Homo sapiens: one gene and its partners. The protein of the gene in region 2 interacts with the protein of the main gene of each other region in a biochemical or structural test. Each region holds a gene or a part of one and is shown on either strand. Other genes may lie near its edges. The genes, in order: CYLD, MAP3K7 and SLC9A1.

Region 1 (3,653 bases), on a different chromosome or scaffold from region 2:
CCCAGCTAATTTTTGTATTTTTAACAGAGACAGGGTTTCACCATCTTGATCAGGCTGGTCTTGAACTCCTGACCTCGTGATCCACCAGCCTCGGCCTAATGACATTCTTTTCATGGTCCATTTTAGGTCCACCTTCATCCGAAGAGGCTGAATCATAAATATAACCCAGTGTCACTTCCCAAAGACTTACCCGACTGGGACTGGAGACACGGCTGCATCCCTTGCCAGAATATGGAGTTATTTGCTGTTCTCTGCATAGAAACAAGCCACTATGTTGCTTTTGTGAAGTATGGGAAGGACGATTCTGCCTGGCTCTTCTTTGACAGCATGGCCGATCGGGATGGTACTGAAAACGCCTTTCTTCTGCATGTGGCACAGGGTTCTGGTTTGTAGTGGGACAGTTTGTAGTGGGATCGCCTGTTCTGAGTGATATTTTCTGAGAAAATCCTTTCAGGATTATTCTGGTGACAACAGTCTTATATCTTGGATTGCATTAACAACCTTGCTAGCTGAACTAAGGAATAATATGCTGTGTTTTTTTTTTTCCTTTTTTGAGATGGAGTCTCACTCTGTCACCCAGGCTGGAGTGCAGCAGCGTGATCTTGGCTCATTGCAACCTCCACCTCTCAGGTTCAAGCAATCCTCCCACCTCAGCCTCCTGAGTAGCTGGGACTACACGCATATGCCACCATGCCTGGCTAATTTTTGTATTTTTAGTAGAGATGGGCTTCTGCCATGTTGCCCAAGCTGGTCTCAAATTCCTGGCCTCAAGTGATTAACCCTCCTTTTCCTCTCGATGTGCTGGGATTACAAGAGGAGCCAGTGCACCCAGCCTCATATTGTGATATTTTGACATGCATATGCTCTTTTTTTAAAAAAAAGAATCCTAAAATTCTTATTTCAGCCCTGAGGGATCTTATTTCCAGCTTCGCTGTCTTCTTTCAGGCCCCTCTCATTTTTGTAGGAGCCACGGTAGCTGTTTATTGAGCACCATTAAGTCATTCTACCTAAATCCTGGCAAGATGGGGATTATTCCTGTTTTTCTGTTATTAAAGCTGAGGTTTAAGGGGCTTGAGGTATTGTAGTTTGTGTTTAACTCAGTCTTTCTGATCTCAGTGCATATGTTTTTTTGTACTAAACCATGTTATCTTCCAATTGCCAAAAGCTGAGAGCAGAAGTAAACATCCTTTTCAGAAAAGTAAAGCCTCTTCTGCATGTAGTATCTTTCTCCCTGAAGTGGGGAATAGGCTGCAGTTGCCAGGCCACTTTCTAGGATGCTTAATCATTATTTAACTAATGCTTAATGAATGCCAGGCAGGATAGTGGGTTGTAGGTAAGAAATGTTTGTTAAAGCAGCCCTGCCTCTACCTATAAGGAGTTTGCAGGTTAAGACCAGGCCTGGGCAAGGTTGTGAGGTGTGACTCTCATGTTCCTCCATTCTTATACCCTATTTTTCCTTTAGCTGCTCTCTCAGATCCAGCCCCCACGGCCTTCTGGTGTGGCCCTCCAGTAGCCTAAGACATTCCCTGTGGCAGCCTCTTGAACAGAGGCCCAGGCCCTAGATCAAGAGTTCTCCACCTTTTCTCAGTTCTCTGATGCTTGAGGGATACATCCCAGCCCCATCTGTAGATGTGCCCCCAACCCAGTTAACATTTGCACTAAACAGCGTAACACAACAGCATAGGTTTGGAAAAGCCACTGAGGTAACCCAGAGGAGCCTTTCCTGGAATCTCTGAAATCACACCCCAGAGCACCTTCATCAGGGCCTGGTGATGTGTCAAACAAACTGTATTAGAGTTGCGTAAGGATGTGTTTAAAGTGTAGGGAGCTATAATAGCGTTCATTTGACTAGATCTATTCCAAATTGGACAGTCTTATGGTGAAGTGTGCTGGGTGGCTTGTGTCTGGGAGGAAATGAAATGTGAGGAACAGAGTGTCGTCTACATATGTATTGATAATATGATTCAGAGAGAAGTCTGGAAAGTAGGTTGGGGGCTTACCTCAGAATTCGTGTCCTTTTACCAGGTTTATTCACTGTTGGCCCCAGAATCCTTTCAGAAACCAAGAAATGAGAATATGTCAAGGGTTAAAGGAGGCTTTCACTTCCAGAAATCAGAAGTAAAATAAAGGCTTTTAGAGCCTGAAATTAGCTTTTTGGAAATGATAGGATTATAAAATCACTGGCAAAAGGGTTTAGAACTTGACTGCCCTATAAAGAGTTCTTCCTCTGTGCCATAGGTGGTCAGAATGGCTTCAACATTCCTCAAGTCACCCCATGCCCAGAAGTAGGAGAGTACTTGAAGATGTCTCTGGAAGACCTGCATTCCTTGGACTCCAGGAGAATCCAAGGCTGTGCACGAAGACTGCTTTGTGATGCATATATGTGCATGTACCAGAGTCCAACAATGAGTTTGTACAAATAACTGGGGTCATCGGGAAAGGCAAAGAAACTGAAGGCAGAGTCCTAACGTTGCATCTTATTCGAGCTGGCAGTTCTGTTCACGTCCATTGCCGGCAATGGATGTCTTTGTGGTGATGATCCTTCAGAAAAGGATGCCTCTGTTTAAAAACAAATTGCTTTTGTGTCCCTGAAGTATTTAATAAGAAGCATTTTGCACTCTAGAAAGTATGTTTGTGTTGGTTTTTTAAGAAGTCTAAATGAAGTTATTAATACCTGAAGCTTTAAGTTAAGTGCATTGATCATATGATATTTTTGGAAGCATACAATTTTAATTGTGGAAGTTTAAAGCCTCTTTTAGTCCATTGAGAATGTAAATAAATGTGTCTTCTTTATGGACCAAGGATATGAAATCATTTTTCTTTTGTAGCTAACGGTTGCCTTGAGGAAGAAATAATTTGGTTTTATTAAGAGTCTACTCTCAATCCAGTTATTAGAGATGTACTGAGTTTGATTTGTTAATCCTTTCTATATACTGCTGATCTTGCATGTCTACAATCTGCTCAGTTTTTCTGTGTTTCTGCAATAGTGGTCAGAAAAATACTTAAATTCCCTTAATGGTGTTGTTTTCTATTTGTTCTGGTTTTGAGATAAATGAGTGATTCTGTCCCCAAATGTCCATTTTTGAAGTGATTTTCCTGGAGGATTAGGGTATTTAGCAGTTGAAGCTCTTCATTCATAGTAGTTACTGTCAGCTAACAGGTTTTTTAAGGCTTTTAACTATTAATATTTTATGGAATGGGGCAAAGTAAATTGATGAAAGAATTGGAGTGATAATAGTCCTTTACAAACATACAGTCCATAAGAAAATGAATTTGGCATATAGAATTATTACAATTTCCTGGGAGAGATGGATATTTAAACCTCTATTATTTTAGACAAGACTGTCTAGAACTTAAGTTTGATCTGTCAGCCAGTACTCCCATTAAATTCAGTGTAGTTTCACTTGATAGAATCAGATATGTTATCGAAATGTTAGCAGCAGCTTCATCCTCCTTCTGATTAAAGTAAGTAGAAATGGGATGTTTTGTTTAATAACAGCCATAGTGTGTGTTTAGACCACAGCGGATGTTGTAGACCAGGACCATAGATGATACATGTCAGTGCTGTGGAATGTGCATTCTCTGAGTGTTGTTTTGTGGTATCATTGTCTTTCCTGAATGACTTTCTAACTGTGCAGAAAGGCAGAAAAGTC
Region 2 (3,653 bases):
TCAACATAAAAGTGCCAGCAGTTTGATAATTACTTCTACGATTTCCAAACTGTAGTATTTAATTTCCTATTTAGGCTTACCTTTCAAATACCAGGTTGGTTCCATTTAAATCACTGTATCAATAAATTATGATAAAACAATTTTTTCTCTCTTTTTTTTGAAGTACATACAGAAAGCTTTTCGCAAATTCAGAAAAAAACAACTTTCATTTATTTAGATTAAAATTAATGAAGGGAATCCTATTATCATACATATATAAAGTTGCCAAAATTTTTTCCTTATCACTTCATTTTAGTTACCACCAACAATTCAGTTACCTAAGTATAAAATTTCATGGAGGTCATGCTTAAGAAAACTGAAGATACATACATATTTAAGAACTGTGAATGCAGTAGTAAGGAAATTAGGCTGTGTTTCTTTAAAAAGGGAGGAAGGCAGTTTCTATAACTCCTCAGAAAAACACTCAGTTATGAAATACAGTCTTTTAATAAGTAATCCAATTCTAAACATACACCTGGAAAAAATGTATCTACAAAAATGTTTCTAAGATAAGGCACAACTGAATGTTAATAAATCAAATTATTTTATCTATTTACAAGAAAACAATAAATCTTTATAATAATAAGTCTAAACAGCTCTGAGAACATAAAACAACAAGTATAAAGCACCAGTTTATTTTCCATAGCACTAATATGATAGTCAAAAGGATTGAGTTTTGCATAAAAAATTTTTAGTAAAAGGGTGCTTAAAGCTTAAACAAGTTGAAAGTATACTTAATGACTAATTCTAAAAACTACGTTTTCATTGCACCTTATCATATTTTAAACTCAAAATACTAATGTATTTTTATTTTTATTCATAAAAAATAACTTACTTTCTCTGTAATAACAATGCAATTTCTGTTTGAACTTTCATATATTCTTGTGCCATTTTACAATGCTGTTCAAACACTGCCATAGATTCTTTGGAGTTTGGGCACGGTGCTAGAGGCTGAAAATAATCAGGAATGTTAAAACATAATTAAATCAAATTTCAATATCTAGCTAAGATGAGAGTCAAGACAGAGACTGTGATATATTTTTATAGCACTAAAGCAATGATCTTTTAAAAATAAGTGTTAAACCATGCCCTAGAAAATCTCAGTGTCCTTTTGTCAGAATTAACTCAGCATTTAAATCTATTCTTGCTGTTTTAACAGTCTGTTACAGAGAATCATGATTGTTGGAGTTGTAGTCTCTGGTATGACATTTCAGGCTGCAAACAGGCTCAAACTAAATGATGTTTATAGCCCTCATACTCATGAGGGGGCACTGAAGTATATTATTTACATTTTCAGTCACTATGAACATGAGAATGTATCACAAATGTATTAAATAGAAATAAGCTTATGAGTTTTGTTTTAATGCACTAAAATTAAAGAGTGAAAATGTAATGCTTAGCAGTACTAAAGAAAGATACTGGAGGATTTTAAGATGACTGAAAAGATAAGAATATGATTCTGCCAATTTAAAGTTTGATTAACTTAACCAAAAGAATTATTTTGATTTGATTCTAAAAAGTTTAAGGAGGCCAACTAAAAGGATAAATTAAGGAGTGACTATACAATGACAGGTAGCAACACAATTGTCAACTTAAACTCTCTAAGAAGAAAAAAGTCAACTTTCAATAAGAAAGTACTCCTTTACCTGTAGTTGGTGATCCAGTGTAAGATAAGCCATTGGGATGGAGTTATCTGATCCATTGGTATCTGGAATTCAAGCATGTATTTTATTGATTTTCTGTCACAAATAATTATAAACGAACAGCAAGAAAGCATGAATGAAATGCTTTTTTTCCCTAAAGTAAATAATATGTAAATTAAAAGTTACAGCTATTGGTAATTGAAGAGTCTATTTCTGAATTCTAAAGGTTAAAAAAAGGATATTCAATTATCAGATATTAGAATGCAATTATATTCTCATACCTATAATTTAAGTTGGCTATAAACTGAATAGAACACAATATATTAGAGCTTCTAAGCTCTTAATTAAAAACAAAAACAGTGATGAGACCTTTATATTTTAAATTCAGTCTTAATTGACCCTATCTAATCAAACTCCCCATCTCTTTTCTTTATCATGCTAAGTTTATTTTATAGAAGGCTATATCAACTCCGCTAATATCAATGTTCCTTAACAGGGAAAGGGAGAAAGCAGAGACACATTCTCTTCCAGTGGATCATTTTCAATTTATATAGATTATAATGTGACCTCCACCACTCATCCTGCCCTTCCCAGTAAGAATCACTGCAGAAAACGAGATGTTGGTGATGAGAGTATATTACAAATACGAACAGTAAGGAACCAAAATGAGGTTGAAACCTGTGGCTCAATGTCATGCCGAAAACAGTTAAGTTGATTAATTCAAACAATCAGTCAATTTTATAAAATTATTTGAATAGAATGCTTTTGTTTATATTTCAAAAGAGGTAAAACTGCCATACAACTTGACTGAGATGCGTGGGACAGTCTCTTCTCAACATTTATGGTTATGTAGAACAGTTCCAGAAGTAAACAGAGTAACTCTGAAGCAATACAGACTTTTCTACTTCAGAAGTAGTTGCTTTCCCACTGTTAGTAGACAAAAAAAGAGCTAAATGAGTGAGCTCTTCAGCCTTTTTCTGACGAATAACTCCTTGAAGGAGTGGTGTGGATAAAGGCAAGTCAGGAAGACAGCAGACGCACTGTATGCAATCCAAAAAAACTCAAGAAGGGTTGCTGGCTCAGTAATCTTCTAATTTATTGTCAACTGATAATCCAGGTGTTTTTTTTTCTTTTTGCTTTTGTTTTTGTTTTTTTAAAGCCACTGAGAACGTGCTCTCAAGAAACTCCAAAAGCTAATTAGCGAAATCAGACCAAATGAGCCAGTGCATGTGAGGAACACCATGCAAATCCTGGCGTATATTAAGCACTCAATACATGACGGTAGTTATCATTATTATTCATACTAAATGGAGAATTAGAAAGAACAATTTAAAATAGTATAGTATGAATTCCATATTGAAAAAGTAATGTTTATTAAATATTGCAGGGCAATACAGAAAAACAGTAGAGACTTAAGGCACTTACCCTTACCCTTAAGGCTCATATACAGTACTAACATAAATGTGTGTTTTTCTGAAGTGGCTAAACAAGAAATATACTTAATTTGTTATTTCTCTGACCAACTCTTCTCCCACCCCAACAGTGGTTTCAAACTACGCTCCCACATAAACACTGCTTTCCACAAAACTAAAACTGATTAAAAATGACTGATTTCCTCCTGATTTACTAGAAAAATTTAAGTGTCTTGAAAAAGTTTCAATTTAAGATTTCCATTCCTATTATTCTTTCTTAAATCACTGATACATTATATATCTCATTATATCAGCACCCTGTATCTGATATGTATTTTAGAATTAAGCTTAATACATCAGTGTTGCGTGGTATTCTGGGAGCAGAAAAAAAGTCCAAGGATTGTGTTATTCAAATAATTAAAGCCCTTGTATGGTGGGGAACTTAAGGTCCTTCATTGAATTTCATCTTCTCTCTAAAAAAAGAAGTGGGATTTCACTTTCTCACTTTACACTAAATTGATATTGAACTTCCAATCTCTACTAGCAATAATTGGTCACA
Region 3 (3,653 bases), on a different chromosome or scaffold from region 2:
TAGCAAAACCAAGAGCTTAGGCCCTGGAGTCAGTCAGACCTGGTTCAATCACAAACTGGTTCATACTCCAACAGGTTATTTAACTTCTTTGGGCCTGTGTCTCCCCTGGAAAATGAGAATAATAAGCACCTCTTAAGGCAGCCATGAGGACTTAAATGAGATAATCCATGCCGAAGGGCTCAGCATGGTGCCTGGCATACGGGAAGCGGGAATGTGCCTCAGCTGTTTTTATTACTGTTATTAGCGGGTGGATGAGGGATTCACTGGTGGGCCTGGATTTGGGTTTGTACCGTTTGGACATGGGCATGGCCCCTGGCCTCCTCACCACAGTGACGGCGTCATTGAGCAAGGACTCCCCAAAAACAAGGATGTGCAGCAGCTCATTGATGTGAATTTCCTCAAAGACAGCCAGAACCGCCACGGGGTCCACGGCCGAGATGATGCTGCCGAAGAGCAGGTTGTCCAGGAGGCCGATGTTGTTGATCTGCTCACCGCCCACCAGGCACACGGCGTACATGAGGCCGCCCAGGAAGAAGGCGTTCCACAGCGTGCCCACCACGGCAAAGATCAGGATGGTGCCCAGGTTTTCTGTGAACTGCCGCAGTGGCAGGAAGTAGCCCGCATCCAGGATGATGGGCGGCAGCAGGAAGAGGAAGAAGACGTCGGACTGCAGGAAGGGGGGTGTCTCGCCTACACCCTTGATCAGGCCCCCCACCAGCAGCCCCACCACGATCAGCAGGCAGCTCTCCGGGACGATGCTTGAGATAGTGGGGATCACATGGAAACCTGCGGAGGGCGAGAGAACGGGAGGCCATGGGCTTTCGGAGGAGCCAGGAGAATAGAAGGTTGGGGATGGGCCGGGGATGAGGAGCGCAGTTGGTGAGAGGTGCACAGGCTGGGTCTCAGAGGGCTGCTCTGTTAACTCTCTGAGCCTCCGCTTCCTCGCCTGTAAAATGGAAGGGACAATGCTAGCTTCACAGGTTTGCCATCATAAACCAAGTGACAGTGTTTTTAAAGCACTTTTTTCAAAGGATATATACATGCTATCTCTGTCACTGTCATAAAATGTTAGAAAGCAGCAGTTCTATATGCTTCCAGAAGGCAGAAATTATAAATTGATTACTGACGTGCCAAGTACCTACGGGCATCACCTACGCCTGAACCCAAGGCATTATTCCAGGCACAAGTTCAGGGAGGCAGATCTGAGCTCAACCTGAGGAATAACAATCTAACAATTCTGTCTGAGGGAAGATGGTAGTTCCCTATCACGGAGCTGTTTAAGCAGAAGGCAGACAACCAGCTGGTGGGGAGTGGCATAGGAGACAGAAGAAAGCACAGAAGAATCTAAGAATACCAGCGTGGGAAGGAACTTGGGGATAATAAGGCCTGGGGTCTGCAAACCTGCAAAACAGTAGGCTTTCCTACTGAGTCCAGGCAGCTGCTCAAGACACGGCTCAAGGATGTCAGTGGCAACCAGCTTTGGCAGGTGAGATAAAATCTATTTGCTATCCCGCTTCTAGCTCAATGCCACCCACTTTAAAGATGGGGCAACTAAGGCTCAGAAAAGGGAAGGGACTTGCCCAAAGTCACACAGCAAGTGGGGAGCAGAACTAGAATAGAACACAGGTCTGATGCCCCAGTTCCCATCAAACTGCACAGTTCTGTAATTCAAGCTCTCCTATCCTTCCCTCCCATCAAGGCCTCCTCACACACCCCTCTGCCTGGGACCCACCAGCCATCTCCCCAGGCCGTGTCCTGGCCAGCAACAGGCCGCTCTGCTGTAGTCCACCTTAAGGCTTCAAACCCAGAGCTGAGGAGTAGCAAAAATCCCCGTTGAGAGGGCCTCTCTCAATATCAGGTATGGCCAGAGAACCCTGAGCTCCTGTGAGTGGTTTACTTGTTTGTTTTGTTTTGGGGTGGGAAAGTAGGTGGAAAAAAATCTGAGCATCTAGTTGTATGTTGGGTACTATGCTCCCAGGGTTGGCATAGCCAAGAGGGTTTGTCCCTTTGCTCAAGAGGAAAGCTCTCTCTGGCCTGGCATGGTGGCTCATGCCTGTATCCCAGCATTTTAGGAGGCTGAGGTGGGAGGAACACTTGAGGCCAATAATTTGACACCAGCTTGTACAACATAGGAGACCTCATCTCCACTTAAAAAAAATAGCTGGGCATGGTATGCACCTGTAGTCTCAGCTAGTTAGGAGGGCCGAGGCAGGAAGATCACTTGAGCCCAGCCTCAAAAAAAAAAAAGAAAGAAGAAAGCAAAGCTCTCTCTCCTCCCCTTCCCTATCTTGCAAGCTCTGTGCAGGCAGATCCCATAACTGCTTATCATTATACACCCAGGGCTAGGACACAAGAAGTGCTCAACAAATATCAGCTGACTTGAAAATACACAGGGCTGGGACATCACCCAAGATTTCCGATAACCTGCATGCCTGGCCAGGCCTCTGCTCTCATTACTTACTCTTGAGATCCTTGGGACAGAGGAGGAACTTCCCTCTCCATGCCCAAAGCCCTTCCTACTCTCAGGTAGGAATCTGGGCAGTGCTAGTACGGTGACAAGTCAAAGTTCACACTGCTGGCTGGGCACGGTAGCTCACGCCTGTAATCCCAGCACTTTGGGAGGCCGAGGTGGGTGGATCACCTGAGGTCAGGAATTCAAGACCAGCCTGACCAATATGGTGAAACCCTGTCTCTACTAAAAATATAAAAATTGGCCAGGCGTGGTGGTGGGTGCTTGTATTCCCAGCTACTTGGGAGGCTGAGACAGGAGAATTGCTTGAACACAGGAGGTAGAAGTTGCAGTGAGCCGAGATCACGCCACTGAGCTCCAGCCAAGATCACTCCACTGCACTCCAGCCTGGGCAACAGAGCAAGACTCCATCTTGAAAAAAAAAAGTTCACACACTGAACACTATCCAGGCCCAGAATCCTGGCACAGTGCCAAGCACCCTGAAGACACTCAAAACACATTGGGAAAAAAAGATGTCTCCATCCTAGGCCAAGAGGACCTCGAAGGCACCATGTGCATTCTCCTGATTTCAAAATAGACATGACCAAAAGTCACTTTTTGTTCATCTACTTCCCACATCAATAAAAGGGAAAATAATTCCAAAATCACCCCTTTTGCTGAAAAGTCCCCCAGTCTTTGTACTGTCCACCAGTCAACATCCAGTGTGTAGCTGGCTGGTCCACTGGGAAGGGCTAGTCATGTTGGACCCAAGTCTCTCTTGCTGTAGAGGATAAAGCCCACATTTTCAGCACTGCCTCTGTCATCTGCTCTTGCCTCATGTCCCATTCTCCCCACTGTCAACTCTTAGGTTTCAGCCTTGCCAAATTCCTTGCAATTGCCCCATATGAGCCACATCCTCTTTTGCCTGCCAATCTTCACCTAGTCTAGTTCCTCTCTCTAGAAATCATTCCTCTACCTCTACCCCCACCATATGTGGCTGACACCATATCCTCTGCCTGCCTCCTCCTTCAGGAAGCATTCCCTGACCACCACCTGTCTGCTCAGGTTAGGGCAGGAATCTTCTGGTGCTTCCCTCTCTCATAACCTTCAATCCACAGTCATCTCCCAGGTTCCTCTCTCTCTTCCTGGCACCCACCGAGATCAGTCAGACAACCCAGGCAGAAGCAGCTGAGACAAGACAATG

What was found.
Region 1: the proteins of MAP3K7 (region 2) and CYLD form a complex in vitro, tested with the Homo sapiens proteins (one study listed by BioGRID).
Region 3: the proteins of MAP3K7 (region 2) and SLC9A1 form a complex in vitro, tested with the Homo sapiens proteins (one large-scale study listed by IntAct).

The regions. Positions count from the first base shown.
Region 1 is NC_000016.10:50,794,086-50,797,738, forward strand, and holds part of CYLD (ubiquitin carboxyl-terminal hydrolase CYLD), read left to right. Parts: intron 1-126; coding exon 127-343; intron 344-2,238; coding exon 2,239-2,423; 3' UTR 2,424-3,653. UniProt on the Homo sapiens protein: Deubiquitinase that specifically cleaves 'Lys-63'- and linear 'Met-1'-linked polyubiquitin chains and is involved in NF-kappa-B activation and TNF-alpha-induced necroptosis.
Region 2 is NC_000006.12:90,517,573-90,521,225, forward strand, and holds part of MAP3K7 (mitogen-activated protein kinase kinase kinase 7), read right to left. Parts: intron 1,748-3,653; coding exon 1,686-1,747; intron 991-1,685; coding exon 875-990; intron 1-874. UniProt on the Homo sapiens protein: Serine/threonine kinase which acts as an essential component of the MAP kinase signal transduction pathway. Plays an important role in the cascades of cellular responses evoked by changes in the environment.
Region 3 is NC_000001.11:27,113,501-27,117,153, forward strand, and holds part of SLC9A1 (sodium/hydrogen exchanger 1), read right to left. Parts: intron 787-3,653; coding exon 326-786; intron 1-325. UniProt on the Homo sapiens protein: Electroneutral Na(+) /H(+) antiporter that extrudes Na(+) in exchange for external protons driven by the inward sodium ion chemical gradient, protecting cells from acidification that occurs from metabolism.